Regions from separate parts of the Homo sapiens genome. Here region 2 is linked to region 1. Evidence: fine-mapped expression QTL. A gene starts in region 1. The other region holds a variant in brackets. All regions are shown on one strand. Distances are between the middles of the regions.

Region 1 (2,914 bases):
TGGGTATAATGTACGTTATTCTAGGGACAGATACCCTGAAAGCCCTGATCTCACCACTACACAATCTATGCATACCAGTAAATCTTAATTTTTGGGGGGGTACGGACCCATCTGAGAATCTGACCTTGTCCACAAAATAATGCACATGCATATATGATGTTGCATATTACTTCAGAGAGCTTGAAAACTGACTCTCCCTCCCAAGCCCATACACTGACCCCCAAGTTTTACAAGGTTGCAAAGAAAAAAAATGAGCCAAGAATATTGCCCCATCCCGCAACCCCCGAACACTAAAGCAGACCTACAAAGAGCAACATAAGGCATTTTCAATTCCGAAGGTCTAGAGTAATGGTTTTCTGCATCTTTAACATTTATCAAGAGTGAGCTGAGTCATCATTTTTAAAATATTTGTAAATATTAATAAACTCTTTGGCAATACTTTATGTAGATTATGTAGATTATGCTCGTAACATATGTTTAACAACCAAACTACAATAAATCCCTTGTTTTATTTTATAATTAGAATAAACAATATTTAACATTTAATATATTCAGCTTGATCTCAATTGTGCAAATGTAATGCATAGAAAAAAAGACTGAGTAACCCAAAACTCTACTGAGACCTCTGAGACCTGGGGCTGTGATGTTTACCCTTCTTTCTGCTTTTCTGTACTCTCCAAGCAGACAAGAAGAAGTATCTACCTATACATAGGAGTGTGGAATAGGAATAAAATCCCAGAGTGGCTGGCCACATCCCCAGGTTCTAACCCTGCTTTGGCTACCGTAAAACTGTGACCACAGGCAAGTCACTTGAGCACAACGAATCAGCTATTAGTACATGACAGTAGCCACCTTATATGTTTCTACTGTCCCCTTTGTCATTATGCAGAAGATATCTAGGCCACTATTCCCCAGTTATAATTTCCCTATTTACAAGCTCTGTCTTTCCAACTATTGCAAACGTATCCAGAGACTTAAGGAGAAACTTTACTTGTTTTGCTTCCTTGGCCAGTGCAGTTATTTAGAAATAATGAAGGGTCCATGTTTTTGCTGAGAATCTCAGCGCCATGTACCAGTCCAGCATTTCCCAACCAATGCAATAATACCATTGTCATGTCAGGGAGTGACAAGTGATTAAAAGGTGATTACAGTATTTGAAATGTGACATTTCAGGAAAAGCTGCCTCGGTTACTGAGTAGCGCAGGTCCCCCGATGTGGAACCTAGTTCCATCCCTGCCAGTTCAGAAGCCAGAGCGGATATGCTCCTGCCAACCTCGCCTTCTTTCCCTAACTGCTCTCCTCTACCCACTTCGGGTATGCCCTCCTCAGGGCCTGCAAGGCGCGGGGCTGGGAAGACCGGGAAAGTCGGGTCAGGGGCCCGCCCGCCCTACTCGACTCCCTGCGCCCTGCGCCCGGCTCTTTTTAACCCCAGCGCCGCCAGGCCCGCAGGGAGGGGGTTCCCGGGTTTGGACCCGGACTAGGAGGCCGCATAGGGCACGCGGCCCTACCTGTGAGGGAGGCCAGCTGGAGACTGAACCCACACTCGGGAAGGAGGCCCAGCCCCAATCGCCTCTCAGGAGTGGGCGGGTCCGCTCAGGGACAGGGGCTCTAGAGGGAACGGCCACGCCCCGGACGCCGCCGGGAGCCAAGCGCCAAGGGAGGGGCGGCGGGCAACCGAGGCCAGGCGCCCGGGACAACGAGTACCTGGCGGCCGAACTGAGGACAACTGAGGGAACTCGCAGAGCAGGGCGGGAACGCTTCCAGCAATGGCGGCGGCTCGGCGGTGCCGGCCTCCAGGCAGGGCATTGCGCCTGCGCAGCCGGAGCGTCGGAACTACAGTGCCCAGAATCCTCAGCGCCTGAGCCCCCCGCCCCTTTTGTCTGCGTTAGTGAAGGAATTGGCTCTTCGAGGGTGAGAAAAAATTCCAATTGGATACACTTCTGTTGAGAAGCCTTGACTATGTGTCAAAAGCAATAGCACTAGAGATACAAATAATGACACAACCCTTGTCTTGGAACATTTAGGTGCGACTAAAGAAAGCCGTCGAGAGAACAGATAGATGTGATCCAGACAAATATGTGAACAAGTGCTTGGAAACACATATTTCTGAACAATTCCCTTTATGACAATTCCCTCAGAGTTGGAAGAGACAACAATTGATGACTATAATGCCAATTAAGTAGAATGGATATGAATGTCTGAAAATAAGCTGGAAATTTTAAGGCCAAAATTCTTCGAAATACAAAGAAAAAACCTTTCTGAAGACAAATAGCTGTAGAAGTTCTCCTCAATGCATACAAATGATAATTCTTAAAACACAATGACTGAAAGTATTTATTTGCAACAAATTTATTTGACCACTTATTCAAGGGCTGCTCGTCCAAGAGCTATATTAAGGTCTATTTACTTTATCCCTACCAAAGGCGGTATTTTTTGAGGATAGAAACTACATCTCATGGAGTTTATCACTCAGAGTGCCTACTTAGGAGACTGCTTGCATACTGAATGAAACGAAGGAAGAATGAATGAATAATTTGGGACCCCACCTCCCAACACACTTCCACATATCGAAATGCACACGGAATGAGGTACATCTTCTAAGGAGAGTGGCATTGAAGAGTAATCAAAACAACAGGATATTCACAGGAGGACTGGAATAAAACGAAATTTCCAGTGAAAAAGATTACTCAAAATATTTATTCAATACACTCTGAAATTAGAAACTAAGCAAATGTCTTTTGGAGATCCCAGTTCCCTCACATTCCCCACAGATGAAGATGAGCCAAACAGAAGTCCAAAACTTAAACATTACAAAACAAATAATAAAATAAGACACTGTGACTGAAAATCAGCACAAACAATAAACGGCAGAAATATATCCCCCAAAACTTCAGAGGCAGAGCTCATTTGATTA
Region 2 (2,914 bases), 24 kb before region 1:
AATCTAGAACCTCCTAATATTACTATAGATTTTCATAGTCAATGCCTGATACCCAGTAAAAAATAACAGGCATAAAAGGAGACCACGCTGGGCATAGTGGCTCACATCTTGTAATCCCAGCACTTTGAAAGGCCAACAAGGGCAGATCACCTGAGGCCAGGAGTTCGAGACCAGACTGGGCAACATGGCAAAACCCCATCTCTACTAAAAAATACAAAAAAATTGGCCAGGCATGGTGGTGCATGCCTGTAGTCCCAGCTACTCAGGAGGCTGAAGCAGGAGAATCACTTGAACTTGGGAGGTGGAGGTTGCAGTGAACTGAGATTGCGCCACTGCACTCCAGCCTGGGTAAAAGAGCGAGACTCTGTCTGCCTCCCCCGACCCCAAAAAAAAGGGAGACAAAAATCAAAAGTCACATGGGAAAAAAATCAAGAGAGAAAACAAATATACAGAAACAGATCTAAAATGAATCCAAATAATTGAGGCCTCAGACATAAACTTTAAAATAACTAGGATAACTATATTCAAGAACATAAGATTAACAATCTCACAAAGATTTGTAAAGTATAAAATAACCAAATGAAAATTCTAGAACTGAAAAATAAATATAGTAACTTAACTCAAACTATGGGCTAAGAGCACAATAGAGACAGCACATGAGAGAGTTAGGGAAATGGAAGATAGGTCAGTACAAAGTATCCATACTGAAACACAAAATGATGAAAAACTTGCAAACGTTAGAAAAGCAGAAGAGACATCCAGGATAGGGTGAAAAGGTCTATCACAGATGTAACCAGAGTCCTAGAAGGTTACAAAGAGAAGTGAGAGAGAATGGACAGAAGCTAAGTCAAAGAAATAATGTCTTAGAATTTTCCACAAGAGATAAAAAAAAAAAATCAAGTCACAAGTCTTAGAAGCCAAATGAATCTTCAGCATGAGAAATATGAAGAAAACTATATTAAAGTACACAGTAGTAAAACCGTTGAAAACTAAACTCTTAAAAGCAGCCAAAAAAAGAGAGACAGGGAAGGGCACAGTGGCTCACACCTGTAATCCCAGCACTTTGGGAAGCCAAGATGGGCAGATCCCCTGAGGTCAGAGTTCGAGACCAGCCTGGCCAATGTGGCGAGACCCCATCTCTACTAAAAATACAAAAATTAGCTGAGCGTGGTGGCAGGTGCCTGTAGTCGCAGCTACTCAGGAGGCTGAGGCAGGAGAATTACCTGAAACCAGGAGGCAGAGGTTGCAGTGAGCCGAGATCACGTCACTGCACTCCAGCCTGGGCGACAGAGCGAGACTCCATCT[CAAA/C]AAAAAAAAAAAAAAAAAAAAAATCTGTCTCTCTCTCTTTTTTTTTTTAAACAGTGTCTTGCTCTGTCACCCAGGCTGGAGTGCAGTGGATTGGATTACAAGTCTGTGCCACAACGCCCGGCTAATTTTTGTATTTTTAGTAGAGATGGGGTTTTGCCATGTTTCCCATGCTGGTCTTGAACGCCTGACCCCAAATGATCCACCCACCTCAGCCTCCCAACACCTGGCCAAAGACAGATAGATGTCCTTTAATGAGCAACAATTAGATCAGAGGTTACAAATTATAACCAATTTGGCCCATCATCTGTTTCTGTATAGCCAGCAAGATAAGAATGATTTTTATATTTATTTTTATTTATTTATTTACTTACTTACTTACTTATTTTGAGACCGAGTCTCACTCTGTTACCCAGGCTGGAGTGCAGTGGGCAATCTCAGCTCATTGCAACCTCCGCCTCCTGGGTTCAAGTGATTCTTGTGCCTCTGCCTTCCGAGTAGCTGGGATTACAGGCCAGTGCCACCATGCCTAGCTAAAATTTGTATTTTTAGTAGAGACGGGGTTTCACCATGTTGCCCAGGCTGGTCTCAAACTCCTGGCCTCCAGTGCCTGCCTTGGCCTACCAAAGTGCTGGGATTACAAGCATGAGTCACCACGCCTGGCCAATTTTTACATTTAAAATGGTTGAAAAATATATTAAAAGAATGTGAGACATTAAAAATGTATGAAATTCAAATTTCAGAGTCCATAAGTGAAGTTTTAGTGGAGCACAACCACATTACTTGGTTAATATGTTGCCTATGGATTCCTTGGTGCTACAATGGCAGAGTGGAGTAGTCACAGCAGAGAGTCCTTATGATCCAACAAAGCCAAAAATATTGCTGCCCTGCCTTTTATAGAAAAGTTTAGACAGATGGTTCACTTCTCCACAGATTGTACATAAGACAGAAAACAATAAATGATACCTTTGAAATGTTGAAAGAATATAACTGCCAATCTAAAATTTCAAACTTACCAAAAATATCCTCCCAAAATGAAGGCCAAATGAAGATATTTTTAGAAAAAAAAAAGAGAAGAGGCTGTGCGTGGTGGCTATTGCTTGTAATCCCAGCGCTTTGGGAGGCCGAGGTGGGTGGATCACCTGAGATCAAGAGATCCAGACCAACCTAGCCAACATGGTGAAACCCCATCTCTACTGAAAATACAAAAATTAGCTGGGCATGGTGGTGCATGCCTGTAATCCCAGCTACTGAAGAGGCTGAGCGAGTAGAATCGCTTGAACCTGGGAGGCAGAGTTTGCAGTGAGCCGAGATCACGCCATTGCACTCCAGCCTGGGCGACGAGAGTGAAACTCAGTCTCAAAAAAATAAAAAATTAACAATATACTACCTTAAAAATAAAGACAAAAAGTACAAGAATACACAGAAAGTGAAAGTTAGCAGATGAAAAAAGATATACTATACAAATAACAACCAAAAGAAAGATGCTGTAGTAATATTAGTATCAGACAAAACAGATTTTAAGGCAAAAACTTTTAAGAAATGAGATACTTCATAACGACAAAAGCCAATTTACCATACAGATAACAATTATAACTTTGTATTTACA

Direction of the effects. Positions count from the first base shown, and alleles are read on the strand shown. Sizes are in standard deviations (SD) of each study's normalised expression.
With allele CAAA in place of C in region 2, the expression in monocytes after Pam3CSK4 of the gene that starts at base 1,791 in region 1 is lower (moderate effect, 0.64 SD a copy in Quach 2016).

Evidence for each region. PIP is the estimated chance that this variant, and not a neighbour inherited with it, causes the effect.
Region 2: its variant is the best candidate, but not a certain one, in a credible set for the expression of ZNF624 in monocytes after Pam3CSK4 (Quach 2016, PIP 0.51).

What each region holds. Positions count from the first base shown.
Region 1 is chr17:16,652,060-16,654,973 of GRCh38, forward strand. It overlaps ZNF624 (zinc finger protein 624), which reads right to left and starts at 1,791. Exons shown (of 6, transcript NM_020787.4): 1 at 1,705-1,791. LOC124903934 (a long non-coding RNA gene) reads left to right here and starts at 1,833. Exons shown (of 4, transcript XR_007065639.1): 1 at 1,833-1,911; 2 at 2,025-2,914. RefSeq lists an enhancer at 1,035-1,545 and a silencer at 1,501-1,700.
Region 2 is chr17:16,627,892-16,630,805 of GRCh38, forward strand. The region is part of intron 5 of ZNF624 (zinc finger protein 624); the gene reads right to left. Among named protein-coding and RNA genes, the nearest start is that of ZNF624, 25 kb to the right of the region's middle. The variant CAAA/C (reference allele first, on the strand shown) is at 1,306.